2 separate regions of the Homo sapiens genome follow, and region 1 is reported to be linked to region 2. Evidence: microRNA targets listed by miRTarBase, many of them from high-throughput screens and not tested one by one. Region 2 holds a microRNA gene; the other region holds the end of a gene's coding sequence.

Region 1 (7,534 bases), not on the chromosome of region 2:
GGCTCACTGCAGCCTCAACCTATCAGGCTCAAGCAATCTTCCTACGTTGGCCTCCTGAGTAGCTGAGACTATAAGTGTGTGCCACCACACCCAGCTAATTTTTAAAGTTTTTTGTAGAGAAGGGGGTCTCACTATGTTGCCAGGGCTCGTCTTGAACTTCTGGGCTCAAGCGATCCTCCCACGTTGGCCCTCCAAAGTGTTGGGATTACAGGCATGAATCACCCTGCCTGGCCTAGAATAGTTTTTTGATAATTCATGAAGACTTCATGTTGGTTTAGACACAGAAGGATGATTCCTAAGTCAAGCGTGCTTCTAGTTTTCTTACCTTCTAGCTTTTTAGAGAGGGATAAGATAGAAGATACAAGAGGAAATAGATGCTTGTAGAGAAAATGATGAGTTCAGTTTATGCATATTAAGTTTGTCTTTCTCGTCAGATATCTTTAAAGAAAGTTTCAATTGGCAGTTGTATATACATATCTTGAGCTAAAGGAAAAGGCCCAGGCCAGAAGTATAAATTTAAAAATCATTAGCACAATGGATGGTAGTTAAAAATTATGAAAATATATTCATTTCCTAGGAAGCATGTAGAGTAAAATGAGAAATTAATTTTGTGAACACAGCCCATTGTCATTACCTTTCTATATTTGTGTTGAATTCTGAAAAGTAAAAGGTTAAAAATGCTATATTAAATTTTTACATTTCATTTACATCACAATTATAACAAGAATTGTTTTGTCAATCAGCAGTATTATTTGAACTTGGATTGTTTGTGTAAATTTAAGCAATAGTTTTTTTTTTTTGTTTTTGTTTTATGTAGCTACAAGTGGACCTTCTAGTGCAGTTGTTCCTAATACCTCATCTCGGAAAAAGAATATAACTAGCAAAACAGAAACGCATGAACACAAAAAAAACACTGGGAAAAAGAAATGAAATCTTAGCAGAAGCTGGAACTTTTTATACTTATAAAAATAGTATGTTCTTATGTTTCTCCTTATGCATTTATGTGTTCACTTAAAAATGTTTTTAAATCTAAGGTTTTCTTTGTTTATGTTCAGGTAAGGAACTGTTGTCATGATCTGGAAATGTTTAAAACAATGTTTGTTAGCATTCTGTGAGCAGCAAAACTTATAGTGATAAAAATCGATTGTTGTTAATATGATGTTTACCATGTGCACATAGTAATGAAAAGGAACATAAAAGCCCAGCAGGCTCGTACCAAAGTCACAGCAGTAATGCTATGTACTGCAGAGTCTGATGAGCTGGCCTTTGTGCACACTTTTATTTTCATGGGATTGCATCTTAGCTGTTAAAACTTCTAGATTGAAATTTGACAGCCAGGGTTACATATTGGGGACTTTTAAAGTGTCTTTCCAAAGAGATTTCATTAACCGTTTAGATTAGAATATCTTTCCCAATTGTTACAGTGACATATATGCTGCAATATTTAACAACTGGAGTATTAGCCACATGGGTTATTTTTTCAATCTGTGTTTTGAATTTTTTTATTGTGTGTTATTTAAAATATTACATATGCAGCTGGGAGAACTACACCTTTGTGCACATAGATTTATATATTAATTTGTAGAAAATATTTTCTTTATATATTTCCTTACCATACAAGGTGCCTTGTTCATCAGGAAAACTTTTGTTTTGTATTTTGACAAGAAAGGCACCTTCAGAGTTTCTTTTTAAGTATAGTTGACAAGTGTATAAATGTTACACTTACTTTCAGAGTTCTTTTTAGATCTAAAGAAGTCAGTTCAAAAATGGAAATCAACAATGTTAGGAGAAATCTGAATTCTGTTAAGTTAGTAAGTATTATGTATAGCATCTGTTTTTAACCATTTCCATTCTTATCCCTAGTGTATCAGTTGATCACACTAAGAAAGCTTAAAGATTGAGCATTTGAAATAAATGCTCTTTATAAATGATTAGATTTTTGAAGGGATATTGAAATCATTGCGCTGTGATTTCATCTGTGATGTGAAAAATCAATTTATTATCCTTGGTGCTTTCCCCCCCACCAATGCACAAATAATTGTGAACAGCTTGAAATGACTTAAACTGTAATCCAAATGGGACAATCTGATAAGAATTTCATGCATTGGTAGTTAAATAACTTAAATTGCTAAAGCTTTAGCTTGAAATTTATGTTTAGAAAAACTATTGATTTCCCATGGTATGAATATAACTATTGTAATTCTTCAAATGAGACTCTTCTCACCTTAAATAGTCATATATTAATTAACTTATAGGAAATAAGCATACTATATGTTAGCTGTTTTAAAAGGTACCAGATGTAAGAGTCATAAATATATGCAATTAAAGAAGTTCATAGATTTCACATGAATGTAAATGTGTTATATGGAGACATGTCTTGTAAACAGTTGAATGTATGTAAGTTTTCTGTTTGTGAAAATGTAGTTAATGTACTCACTGTGGAGGTCATAAGGAAGCTACTTTTTTTTTAAAGTGGAACCTAATTAAAATATTTCCAGAATCAAAGAGACTTAAATGGTAAATTTTTAAAATTTTCTTATCTCTTACTTTTTAGTTTTCAAAGTAGAAAAAATCAGGAATTTTTTTATTAACTAGTACTTACATATTAAATAAAATTTATTATTGGCTATATACATAGCAATATATTACTTTCCAAACTAGAAAGTACAGTACAACTAACTTTTTCCATTGTTATGCAAGAACTATTACTTTCCTGTAGTCACCAAACTCAGTAGTATTGCTCTGTAGACTAGACACTCTATTTGTAAAAATCTTAGAATCACTTTCCAAAACAAATAAAAAGTCTACTGTATCAGAGCAAAATGTTATAGTTATCACTGTTTAGTGGCAGTTTGACTGAAGCATCTGTTTCTCACTTGATTCTGTCCTGAGAAGATGTGGGATTTTTTGGTTTTAAATACTAGAAGATATTTCTTCTTAGAGCCCAGTCCTCCATCCCAAAGAGGTGAACTAGCCCAGCATGAAGAATTGTCTAGTCACCCTGAGATATTAATCTTCATAATGTATTATTCAGTTCCTTCACCCTTAAAAGCCATATAATAGGCTCAGACCTAACTTAGCCCTTGAAGTCTAGTGCTGGCAGATTCTGCTGCCCTGGTTTAAATGAGTTACGTAGTCCATTCTCAAATACTAGCAAATTTGGGGGGCGTGGTACAGCAATTTTGGGTGAAGAAAAGTGTGCTGAACACCTTATGTCAGTGATAGACAAGATATAGAGGCTGAAGGGAATACAGTAAAGTAACAAAAACATGTGGCAGTGTGCTTAGCATAAACATAGAGCACAAAGGCAATAGATGGAAATTATGAGAGAAAAGTTAAAGTTCTTCAAGAAATATCCAATTAAAACTCACTAGCCAAGGAAAAAGTTTCTGTTTTCACCCGGATTTCTTTTTGGGTTGACTCTGTCTGACCTAAATGTCCACTGTTAACTAGTGCCATGCCAGTTTGAACCAAGATTTCACATTTTTGTTTTGTATTCATACTTTGGTAGAAATTTCTCAGTCTTTGTGTATTTATAAGAATTTGCTTTACACATAGTGTACAGTGTTTATTAACTTTACATCATTTTATCCTTGCCTTACTATCTGGACAGTGTAGACTGCCTATATTCTTAGTTGGGGTTGGGATCTCTTCTCTTAGAGTGGCCCAGCAGTTTTAGCCCCTCTCTAATTCTCTTTTCCTGTGTTGGGAGATATCAAAACAACAGAATTCTTGCCAGTGGGAACATTTTTCTTTTTTAGACAAGGTCTCATTCTGTCACCCCAGCTGGAGTGCAGTGGCACAGTCTTAATTCACTACAGCCTTGAACTCCTGGGCTCAAGAAATCTTTCTGCTTCAGCCTCCTAAATAGCTGGTACTATAGGTGCGTGCCACCACACCCAGCTCATGGGAATAATTTTTACACTCCTTCAGAAGGAGTCATTTGTGATTGGAGTCCACATAGAAACAGGTTTCCCTCTGTACATAATCGTAGGTACCAAAATATTACTGTGTAAAGTGTTGTTTATATAGGTCAATTTTTGTGGAAGATCTAATTTCTATTTTCAGAGAACAGAGCACATTAAAAAATCTATTTAGTATTGTGTACTATATAATCTATGTGAATTATAGCTCCTTAACTAAATATATTACTGAGTTTTTTTTTTAATACTGTAAGTTCTAGGGTACATGTGCACAATGTGCAGGTTTGTTACATAGGTATACATGTGCCATGTTGGTTTGCTGCACCCATGAACTCATCATTTACATTAGGTATTTCTCCTAATGCTATCCCTCCCCCAGCCCCCCACCCACTGACAGGCCCAGTGTGTGATGTTCCCCGCCCTGTGTCCAAGTACTGTTCTCATTGTTCAGTTCCCTCTTATGAGTGAGAACATGCGGTGTTTGGTTTTCTGTCCTTGTGATAGTTTGCTGAGAATGATGGTTTCCAGCTTCATCCATGTCCTTGTCATCCTTTTTTTTGGCTGCATAGTATTCCATGGTGTATATGTGCCACATTTTCTTAATCCAGTCTATCATTGATGGACATCTGGGTTGGTCCCAAGTCTTTGCTATTGTGAATAGTGCCACAATAAACATACGTGTGCATGTGTCTTTATAGTGGCATGATTTATAATCCTTTGGGTATATACCCAGTAATGGGATGGCTGGGTCAAATGGTATTTCTAGTTCTAGATCCTTGAGGAATCGCCACACTGTCTTCCACAATGGTTGAACTAATTTACACTCCCACCAAGTGTTCCTATTTCTCCACATCCTCTCCAGCATCTGTTGTTTCCTGACTTTTCAATGATCGCCATTCTAACTGGCGTGAGATGGTATCTCATTTGTAAGATGATATCTCATTGAGATTTTTATAAACTGCTTTTCTTTTGGTTCATGTGCTTTGTCATGGATTGTGAGAAAAACATCTTTTCGCTTAGGGATCACTGTCAATTTCTCCTTTTATTATCAATGGTTTTTACTTTACTTTTTATATAGTATGTGGGTATGTTTTCTGGTGCATATAAATTCATGAATGCTAGATTTTCATTATAGGTTTTACCTTATCATTATTAAAATGTCCTTTTTGTCCATTGGATACTTTTTGTTCTATAAATTGTCAGATATTAAGATTATGACCTATGCTTTATTTTGGCTTGCATTTGCCTGATATTCATCTTTTTACTTTTTGGTATTTGTGTCACTTTGTTTTAGGTTATTTAATATAGTATATATTGGGTTTTGCTTTGTGATTCAATTTTAAGATCCCTTTTACTTAATAGATTAGTGTAGTCTGTTTTATGTAATGTATCTTTGCTTTTAGATTGTGCTTGCTTTTTTTATTGCTTTAAAATTCTTTTGTCTTTCTGTAACAATACTTTCCACTGCAAGTAGGAAAATTCCAATTGAAACTGGTTTAAATCATCAGAAAATGTATTATTACACATTTCTGAAGGTCCAAAGGTGGGGTTGGCTTCAGCCACAGTTGCATTAGCCATATTGTCATCAAAAGCCCAAGTGACCTCCCTTGTCACCTCTGGCATAGTATAAACTTTATCCCAAAGTTGTTTTCTCTCGTGTTAACAATAATTGCTGTCGGTTTCAGTGAGGACTACATATTTTTTTTGTTCATGTCCAACACAATAAAAATTGAGGGAAGTTCTGTCCCAATCCTGGAATATTAATATTAAGCCATCTACTTCAGTGTGATTGAGCCAACTTCTTTGATCATCTACTCACCCCTAGATAAATAGAATACTCCAGGAGATTCCCATGACCTTACTGACCCTAGAGCAGATGATGGAGTCAGTTTTTCCGAAAAGCCTCAGCACTGTTGACATTTTGGACCATAAAATTCTACATCATAGGAAGCTGTTCCATGCATAGCAGCATGTCTAGTAGGATCTCTGTACCTAGCTGTGAAGTGTTGAGAGTCAGTTAAGGTAAGTAGCTGAAATGAAAATAACAATCACATCTTTATTCACTTACTATGATAAAATTATAAGCAAGAGACCAAAAAGGAAAGTAGGGCCAGCTCCTTGTTGTTCCATTTTTCCCCTACCATGGACTAGCACTGGACATGCGTCAATCAGACGACATGCAGTCCAGGCAGAGGAAATTGTTTCACTGCTAAGGAGCAATGAACAAAAGGTTCCTGCCATCTTATGGACCTCAAGGACTGCGGACAGGGAGCAGGGAAGGGTTAGAAGTAGAAAACAACTGAGTCAGAGTGGAGATGAGTGTCTCAGTCAAGGCCCACCAATAGCGAGGTCTCTGTGGAGGCACCTGAAAAGTGTCTCAACCAAGGCCCCCTGATAAGGAAGACTCAGCATGGAGGTACCTGGTCTAGGAATGCAGCTAGGTTTATAGACATGGCCAGCCCAGGGGGTCCTGAGCACCAGATACAACTCCCTCCAGAGACTGGCTGTGTTTAAATCTCATGTGGGAAGGGCACCTTTCCCCTACAAAGCCTGTCAGGCAAAGCCTTTGTAATTGCTTATGGTCAGGCCTGAAAGATCACACATCAGACTTTGGCCTGGAACATATCTCCTCACCCTAAATGCCAGCAGCATCGCCTCCAAACTGTGGCAGTCAAAAATGTCTCCAGACATTAGTAAATGTCTTTTGTGAGGGAAGAATTGACCCTAGTTAAGAACCACTGCCCTAAAGCACATGATTCTGTGGAAAAGAAGGATATATGACCAAAATCATCATTTTGGATAGTGAGGGCATGGATAATGGATACATAATCAGCAATGTATGCTGTATACTACACTTGCATTATGTTATTCACATTTGCTATAGTTCACTTGTTGTGCTAATGGTTTTTTCCTTCACTATGATTTTGAATTATATTTAATTTTAAAGTCTATATATATATATATATAGATCCTATCTGTTGACTCCTTGCTGTGAACAATATCCAATTAGTGTATTTTTTCCTCTACTGCACAGTTTTGGTTGATTATTTTTTCCTTTTCATTTCTTTTCTGAACTTTGTTAGCTTATGTTGCATTTCCTTTGGTTGTTTTGCTATGGTGTTTCTGATCAACTACATTTCTTTATGAACTCTATTTCCTTAAGTTCTTTGAGTTATGACAGTATATTTGGTCACATTTTTCATGTGCTCAGCTGATTCATTCTTTCCTGTTGAGTGGTTTTTATCTGCTAATTGTTTCTGCTTGTTCCATTTCTCCTTTTCTTGAAGTGTTTGTGCATGAACACTGTGCAGGTTTATTTTCAAGTATTACTTACCTTTATATGAGATAAATTTCTTTCTGGCTCATCTATTTGATACAATTTCTTTTTTGTTTGTTTTTGTTTTGTTTTTGTTGTTTTTTAAAATGCAATTTCATATGTTAGGTAGGTTGGCTTTTCTTTTTCTTTTTCTTTTTTTTTTTGAGATGGAGTTTTACTCTTGTTGCCTAGGCTGGAGTGCAGTGGCATGATCTCAGCTCACTGCAACCTCCACCTTCCAGTTTCAAATGATTCTCCTCCCTCAGCCTCCAGAGTAGCTGGGATTACAGGCGCC
Region 2 (8,104 bases):
GGTGTCCCTGCAGTGCAGGAAAGGTAGGGCCGGGTGGGGCCCTGCAGTGCAGGAAAGGTAGGGCCGGGTGGGGCCCTGCAGTGTGGCGCCAAGAGCCCTGGGCCTGGCGTGACCACCAAGTCTCCCCAGACATGGAGGGCCTTGTGGACACCAGCGTGGCCAAGATCGTGTCTGACCGCAACCTGCCCTTCGTGGCCCGCCAGATGGCCCTGCACGCAAATGTGAGTGGGGGTGGGTCCAGGCGTGAGCTGGTGGGACAGGCCCAGGTGCCACCTGATAGTGAGCTCACCCCCTGCCTACGTCCCCAGATGGCCTCACAGGTGCATCATAGCCGCTCCAACCCCACCGATATCTACCCCTCCAAGTGGATTGCCCGGCTCCGCCACATCAAGCGGCTCCGCCAGCGGGTAGGGAATATGGGGCTCCCTCAGCGGGGTGTGCTGGCTGCCCAAGCTGTGGGGCGGGTGTGTGGGCAGAGCGGTTGCCACGCCTCCCAGACTTACTGCCCAAGCCGCCTCTGCCTTCAGATCTGCGAGGAAGCCGCCTACTCCAACCCCAGCCTACCTCTGGTGCACCCTCCGTCCCATAGCAAAGCCCCTGCACAGACTCCAGCCGAGCCCACACCTGGCTATGAGGTGGGCCAGCGGAAGCGCCTCATCTCCTCGGTGGAGGACTTCACCGAGTTTGTGTGAGGCCGGGGCCCTCCCTCCTGCACTGGCCTTGGACGGTATTGCCTGTCAGTGAAATAAATAAAGTCCTGACCCCAGTGCACAGACATAGAGGCACAGATTGCAGTCAGACAGCTCTTTTATTGACTTTGTCTGCTTGGTGCGGGGGTTGGGGGGGTGTCGAGGCTCTAGAAGCGGCCATGCCCACAGAAGTGGTACACAGAAGCAGGCACAGCCAGCTCCGAGGGCCTTGAGGCTGCCTGGGCCATACAGCACACTCGCGCGTGCGCGCGCGCACACACACACACACACAGTCACCTTCCTCCACCCTGGGAGCCAGCCCCCAGGAGGAGTCTTTTCCTCTAACCACCCTGGGGTCCTCTGACATGCCTAGTCCTGCTACTTGCCCAGACCTGATGCCAGCAGGCCTGGGCGCTGCTCTCTTGCTACCTGGCCTGGGGCAAGGGAGGATGACAAGGCCTCTGGGGTGATGAGAGTGCCTGGCAGACAGCTGTGCCCCCAGCACCGGCCCAAGGCCAAGCTCGCATCCAAGCAGCAGCCGGGCTGCCATAACGCCACCACACCTACCAAGCGCAGCAGGTGTTGGGGGAGGCCAGCTCTGGGCGCAGGCCCCTCAGCCCTAGTGAAAATAGTGACATACAAAAATATACACATTTTAACACCATATAAATTACTGACACGAGACACACAGTGAGACGGTGCAGGGAGTACGGTAGGAACTGGAGAGGTAATAACTTAGGGGCAGGGTGGCGGCGGTGCAGGCTAACCCTCCCTGAAGCCAGCAGCCTTAGCAGTGGGGGACATCTGCCCAGGGGGTGGGGCCGGGCACAGCCCGCTGTACCTGAGGACTCGGGGAAATAAATTAGCATCTCAGAGGCTAGAAACCGTCCAATACTGCTGTGTCCTTCCCAAGGGAGCTGGGGAGGGGACCCTGGGTCCTGGTTGGCCACACAGCCTCTTTAAAGTGCTGAAGCCCACAGACAGACAGATGCCCCTGCCTGCTCTCTGGGGAACCTACGTGCAGCCATTCTGCCTGGCCCTCGGCCTTGACAGCGGCAGAAAGTAATACTGAGCGGTGTCCACTCCGACTCCACGGCCCACCCCCGCCAGGAAGGAGGACTAAGTGCTGCTGGGGTGGACCTTGTTCTTGGCCCGAAGGGGTGTCCTGCTGGGGCCAGTGGCCAGGTCCACACCCCGACTGGCCCGGGCAAGGCGGCTGGGCAGTGCTGGCCGCAGGCCCGGGGATGGGCCACGGGAAGATCCGGCGGGCGCCCGGCTGCTCCTGCGGCCTTGCAGGCTGTGCAGCTGCTGCTCCAGCTGGTAGACGTCCTCTGTGGCCTGGTTGAGTCGGTCAAACTGGGTGAGCAGGGCCTCGAACACGGCTTGGAGGCGGGAGGGCTCAGGCTCACACCTTGTCCCCAGCCGGCCCAGGCTCACGCTCAGCCCATCCAGCTGGCTGGAGGAGGTGGAGGGGTGCGAGGCATCGGAGCCAGCGCTGGGTGGGGGCACATCCGGGGATACCTTGGAGCCCCTGGAGGAGCGAGAGGGCAGCGGCTCCATCCCTTCAAAGCGGACTTTGTGGCGGAACTGGGGGCGGCACAGGGGCTCAGTCAGTCCGGCTGCACCCTGGGCAGAGCCCAGGGCGTGTCCCTCTCCCCCCCACTGGGCCGTACCCACCTCCTTGACCTTGCTGAGGCCCATCCAGAGGCGCAGCCTGCGCAGGAACAACTCCACCATCTCGTAGTCCTGGGGCTCCCAGGCCGGCCGGTACAGCTCTCCACGCAAGGCGTGGTAGCGCCAGCGGAGAATAACAGCCCCCAGCCGTAGGGCGCCCCACAGCCGCAGTGCCCAGAGCCCCACACACAGCAGGGGTGACAGGTGCCAGGACTCGGCAGGACACAGGGTAGAGAGCCCAGTCCCAGGGCACAGCACCAACAGGGCCTGGGCCACGCTCCAGAGGGAGTCCACACAGGAAGACACGAGCTGCGGGGAAGGCGACACCAGTGAGGGCGTACAGCTGAGCTGAGCTGAGCTAAGACGCCCTCCCCGGCCGCGCAGTCACCTACCAGGATGGCCAGCTGGGCGTAGGCTACCCCGAGCACCACCAGGCCCAAGGTGACCCCCAGGAGCTCTGGCAGAGCTCGGCATAATGTCTTGCCAAAGACGGACCACTGGCGCACGAAGCGTAGCTGCTGGGCAGCCTGCGGACGAGAAATCTGTCTGCTTGCAGCCCTGGGGTGTGCGCCCAGCCCCGCGCCCACCGGCCCAGCCCTCACCTTGACCAAAAGCAGGAAGAGCAGCGAGGCCGCCAGGCCACGGGCTGCGGAGCTCAGCTGCGCCACCTGGTCGAAGCTAGTGAAGCGGCGCGGGCGGCCGCGCACGAAACGGGTCCACTGGCGGTCAGCGGCACCCAGCTGGGCGAGGCGTACCAGTGCCGTGGCCGCCGTCAGCGCCACCAGCAGCCACCGCGCCCAGGCTCCGAGCCGCAGCACGCGCCAGCGCCCTTCCCTGTGCCAAGTACGGGCCTCGGCCACGGCGAAGTGCACGGCGAACAGCAGCAGGCACACCTGTGGGGGGCGCGGTCAGGAGGGCGGGAGGGACGCTGCCGGGGCGGGGCCCTGCGAGGGGGCGGGACGCTGCCGGGGCGGGGCCCTACGAGGGGGCGGGACGCTGCCGGGGCGGGGCCCTGCGAGGGGGCGGGACGCTGCGAGGGGGCGGGGCGCTGCGAGGGGTGAGACGCTGCCGGGGCGGGGCCCCGCGAGGGGGCGGGACGCTGCCGGTGGGAGGCGCGGGGTCTGGCCGGGGACGGGCGTACCGAGGTGAGCAGAGGCAGCGAGAGGCCCGCGCTGAGGCGGCGCAGCGCAAAGGGGCGGACGCTGAGGGCGGCCAGGGCGCGGCCGGCCGCCGGGAACTCGAGGCGCAGCGTGACGGCGGCGTGCAGCCCCACGGCCGGGCTGTAGCGCGTGAGCTCCAGGAACACAGCGCGGCTCCTGCGCAGAGGGTGCGGGTCAGTAGGAGCGGGTGGCAGGGCGGGAGCTGCGGGGACCGCGCAGTGCAGGCGTGGCTGAGGGGCTGTGGAAGCCGCCTAGGCCAGCGGGGGCCGGAGGAGTGAGGGTGGGCTCCTGGCTGGTGACTGCGGCCACCCCGGAGAGGGCAGGGGAGGGAGCTCCCACCTGTTGTCCAGCCAGTTGTGCAGCTGCAGGAAGCGCAGCCGGTCGCGGCTCTCCTCCAGGCTCAGGCCCAGCTCCTGCACGTAGCCCCCGCTGTCATACACGGCACAGGAGCCCCAGGACCATGCCCTGCCGGAGAGGGGTGGCGTGGGTGCCGCACCCCAGCCCTTCCGGCACCCCGGAGCCAGGCTGGTCAGGAGGCCGCGGCACTCCTGGAGAACTACTCCCTTGTCCTTGGCGTAGACGCCCGGGGCCCTCGCTCTGCTCACCCCAGCAGATCCGGCGCTGAATAGGCCCACGTCCCCGAGCCATTGTGAGGACTCTCCCAGCCAACGTCGTAATCGCTGGTGCTGAAGCCTCCTGCGGCCGAGCACGTGTGGACCCTGGGGCCGGGAGGGTCTGGGTAGAGTGCTGAAACACACAGAGCCCCAGGCCGGGGCCAGGGCCTCATCAAAACCCAACAGGAGTGTTTCCTGCTGGCCAGCTCGCCTGAGCTCTGGTTCGGCGCCACCCCAGGGAACCCTCCCAGCAGCCATCAATTAGACAACGTTACCATCTCTCATATACAGAGAAGGAAACGGCGGTGTTAAGAGGGCAAAGGTCACACAGCTAGGGAGCAGGGCTGATGCCAGAGCTCCGCTAAAGGCTGCTCTCTCAACAAGAGGAACGATTTAAGTCTTGGGGCACGCCCTGCCAGCTCACCTTCCTGCAGCCGCACCTGCCGCAGCCGTGGGGGCCCCAGCTCTGGGCTGGACTGGTTCCCGTGGACGTAGGGCAGCAGCACGTGGGCCATCCATGGCCAGAGCTCCTCAGACCTGCCACAGCATCAGTCACACGCTCCAGCCCCTACTGCCCCATGCCCGCCTCGAGTGAGCGGCCACCAGAGACCCAGGGAACATGGCTCCCACTGCCCTGCTGGCCACGGCTAGACCTGGGCTTCTCAGCCTTATCCTGGGGATGTTCTGGGGCAGACAGTTGTCTGTCATGGGCCCGTCCTGTGCACTGCAAGACACGGACCTGTGTCCCTCCCCTCTGCCTACTGATGCCAGCAGCACCTACCTCCAGTTCTAGCAGCCACAAAGGTATCTACACATGTCCACATGTCCCCTAGGGTCTGGCTGGACTAAAGGCAAAACTAAAGCCCAGAAGACAGACCAGTGCACCGGATGCCCGTACCGCGTGATGGCCAGGAAGGCCCGGCTGTGCAGCTCCTGCTTGATGGCGCTTTGCAGACGGTAGGCGTGCCCATGGCATGAGGCATCCCCATAGCTGGCCAGCAGGGTCACCAGCAGAAAAAGCATGTACACCAGGAGGCTCTGGTGGACGGGGGGGCCCTGTGGTCAGCCTGGCCCCAGCCCACAGTGACAGCAGGGCTTTGGCAACGGCTGGAGCCATGGCTGCGGCAGGTGTGGCTGCAGGAAGGTGAGCTGGCAGGGGGCGCCCCAAGACTCTACCTGGCCAGGGTAATGGCAGCACACACCCTGCCCGGAACCCCACCTGGGGGCAGACACACAGGCCACTGCAGTGGTGCTTAGGGGCCTTCAGGGCCAGGCAGGAGTGGGCATTGGAGCTGGGCCCTGGCAGGGACTGGGGCAGCAAGTGGGGGGCGTGGGGTAGGAGGGAGACCGGGCAAAGGCTGCAGAGCATTGAACCCCTAAGGGCCTTCTGAGGTGAGGAAAGGGGGACAGGAGTGTCCTGCGTGCATGGGTGGGAGGTGGGAGACAAGAGACGGAGGTGGCAGGGGCACAGGCCGCACCCAGGCTCACCCGCAGCATGCCATGTAGCCTCTTGACCTTGCGGGCTTCTTCCTTGGCCAGGAAGAGTGCAAAGCCGTGGGGTGGCCGTACGCGGGGCACACGTGCGCTCACAGGCGTCACAGCCGGGCTCTCTACCAGGGTGTCATCTTCATCCGGGTGCAGCCGCTTGGCCACCAGTGAGAAGTACAGGGCTTCCAGCAAGACCTGGGGAGGGGGTGGCTTCAGAGGGGTCCCCCGTGATGGAGGCCTGTAGCCTACCCCTGGCAGCCCCCTCACCTTCAGTGGCTCCCAGCCGAGGAATGAGGCCAGGAAGCTGGCGCTGCTGGACAGGAGCCACGCAACACTCACGCCCGGGGGGAAGCTCGCACCCACCCACCCTGAGACAGCCACAGCCACAGCCACCAGGAGCAGGCTGAGCCCGTGGGCCAGGGAGGCACACCAGGCCGGCAGCAGGCGCTTCCGCAGACCCTCCACCAGTCCTGGGGAAGCAGAGACAGACCTGTGAGAGGCAGCTCACAGGGAGGGGCTAGGGGCATCCCGGGGCTACGCAAGCACACCTGTCCTGGACAGCCTCGCTGCCTGGGGCTGTTCCCAGTTCAGGCCTGGGCTGGGTGGCCCCAGCTCCCCCAGCCTCTGCAGCGCCAGCGTCTCTGTCTTCTCCCCAGGAGTGCTGGACCTGAGGGACATGGTAGGCTGTGAATTCATCCCGGCCTCCAGGAGGCAGTTGCAGCCAAGCCCATGTTAACCTGGGCGGGCAGTTTCTTGAGCCTCTTGGGTCACAGGGTCCCCCCGACAAAAAGCCGGAAGACCCTACCCCAAACGAGAGTGGGAGTGGTGCTGGGAGCCAGGGAACCAAGAGCCACTCCAGGCACCGAAGTCAGGCGTCCGCCTGCGTCCCTCTCCCGCCCGCTTGCTGCTGATAAACCCATCGCCCACAGCCTGACCAGCTGCCCTTACAGCAGTGCACAGTCTCTCAGGGTGCAATGAGCCCCCCTTCAACCCTGCAAACTATGATTGGGTCTCAACCATCCAACAAGCATCTCTACAATCTAGAGACGCCAGTGTGTCTGTCCCATGCAGGTTTATGGCCTAAAATTAACTTCTGGACAAGGAAACATATGAATGCCTTTCAAATCCCAACAGTGTGTAGGGCTCCCTGAGGCCAGAGATCTGCTTGTGTCTCCAGGAGCCAGTGACCACCGAGGCTGTGCCACTGCATCGGGCCACCATGCTGATATGCCCGGTCCCAGAGCTGCTAGAGAAGAGGTACAGAGGCAGCGAAGACACGTTGAGGGGGAGGACGAGACCAACTGCGAGACGCCGAGTCCCGGGCTCTCAGGACGCTCTCCCGTACCTGCGCCCTCGTCAGCCCATCACCGAAAGAACGGCCTGACCCAGGGTCACACTGCACTGAATGCTTCCTGTTTTGCTGTCTCTCGGAGGATAAAAGACACTCTTGGCTGGGCGCAGTGTCTCAAGCCTGTAATCCCAGCACTTCAGGAGGCTGAGGCAGGAGGATCACTTGAGCTCAGGAGTTGGAGACAGTGAGACCCTGTCTTTACAAAAAATTAAAAAATGACCTAGCCTCAACTTGGTCAGGCGTGGTGGCTCACGCCTGTAATCTCAGCATTTTGGGAGGCTGAGATGGGTGGATCACGAGGTCAGGAGTTCAAGACCAGCCTGGCTAAGATGGTGAAACCTCCTCTCTACTAAAACACACACACAAAAAATTAGCCGGCTGTGGCGGCGGGCGCCTGTAATCTTAGCTACTTGGGAGGCTGAGGCAGATAACTGCTTGAACGTGGGAGGCAGACTTTGCAGTGAGCCGAGATCATGCGACTGCACTCCAGTCTGGGCAACAGAGACTCCATCTCAAAAAAATAAATAAAAATAAAAAATAACCCAGCCTCAACTATTCCTTTATAGCAACACAAATGACTCAGGGTCTGACTCAGGGAGCAGGCTCTCGCTGGCAGAGACGGAGAATGGCCAATAGGGAGGCATGGAGTGGCAGGGAATGCCAGGGCAGAGGCGCCGCCAGGACGGAGGGTGCAGGCTCAGGCGCAGGGAAGGCCGTGCTCTGCGTTGGGAAAGGAGCCACGGGACGCGCTGGAGGCTGCAGTGAGGAAGGACGCAGAGGGGTCCAGGACAAACCCAAGCCTCCGACCTGGTCAGCCCGAAGCACTGTCCGAGCAAGGGACGGCCAAGGGTTGAGGAAGCCGGGAGGGTGAGGGCCACGCGCTCTGTGTGGATGCGGAGTCTGAGCTGCCGTCAGAAATCCCCGCGGAAGCACTGAATCTGGATTTCACAGAGCTTTGGGCCGGAGATACCTGGGGCTGGTCAGCATGTAGTGACTACCCCTGGATTTCCCCATACTCTGTATTTTTAAAACCAACCAGCAATTTATTCATAAAGATGCCCTCATGTGATGGTTATCTGCCTTTTGTAAATCAGGAAGTTTTCCTTTTTGTTTGAGTCCAGGGGCAGT

Evidence for each region. The annotated mature microRNA hsa-miR-1225-3p reads UGAGCCCCUGUGCCGCCCCCAG and lies in region 2 at 2,277-2,298, opposite strand. An mRNA with a match to its seed (bases 2 to 7 or 8) in the 3' UTR can be bound and repressed. Matches are read on the target gene's strand: a 7mer-m8 pairs with bases 2 to 8, a 7mer-A1 pairs with bases 2 to 7 and ends in A, and an 8mer does both.
Region 1: the mRNA of PPIP5K2 is a reported target of hsa-miR-1225-3p. Seed matches in the 3' UTR shown: 7mer-A1 at 3,834-3,840.

Annotation. Positions count from the first base shown.
Region 1 is chr5:103,200,705-103,208,238 of GRCh38, forward strand. PPIP5K2 (diphosphoinositol pentakisphosphate kinase 2) reads left to right here. Exons shown (of 31, transcript NM_001276277.3): 31 at 818-7,534. The coding sequence ends at 930. Among named protein-coding and RNA genes, the nearest start is that of MACIR, 54 kb to the right of the region's middle.
Region 2 is chr16:2,087,919-2,096,022 of GRCh38, forward strand. It overlaps MIR1225 (microRNA 1225), which reads right to left and starts at 2,366; the gene lies at 2,277-2,366. TSC2 (TSC complex subunit 2) reads left to right here. Exons shown (of 42, transcript NM_000548.5): 39 at 1-23; 40 at 130-221; 41 at 309-407; 42 at 528-1,573. The coding sequence ends at 692. It overlaps PKD1 (polycystin 1, transient receptor potential channel interacting), which reads right to left. Exons shown (of 46, transcript NM_001009944.3): 35 at 6,174-6,292; 36 at 5,893-6,095; 37 at 5,626-5,820; 38 at 5,036-5,175; 39 at 4,562-4,674; 40 at 4,129-4,270; 41 at 3,863-3,988; 42 at 3,505-3,679; 43 at 2,966-3,256; 44 at 2,756-2,890; 45 at 2,367-2,672; 46 at 790-2,276. The coding sequence ends at 1,809. PKD1-AS1 (PKD1 antisense RNA 1) reads left to right here and starts at 3,518. Exons shown (of 3, transcript NR_135175.1): 1 at 3,518-3,696; 2 at 4,971-5,094; 3 at 6,803-7,099.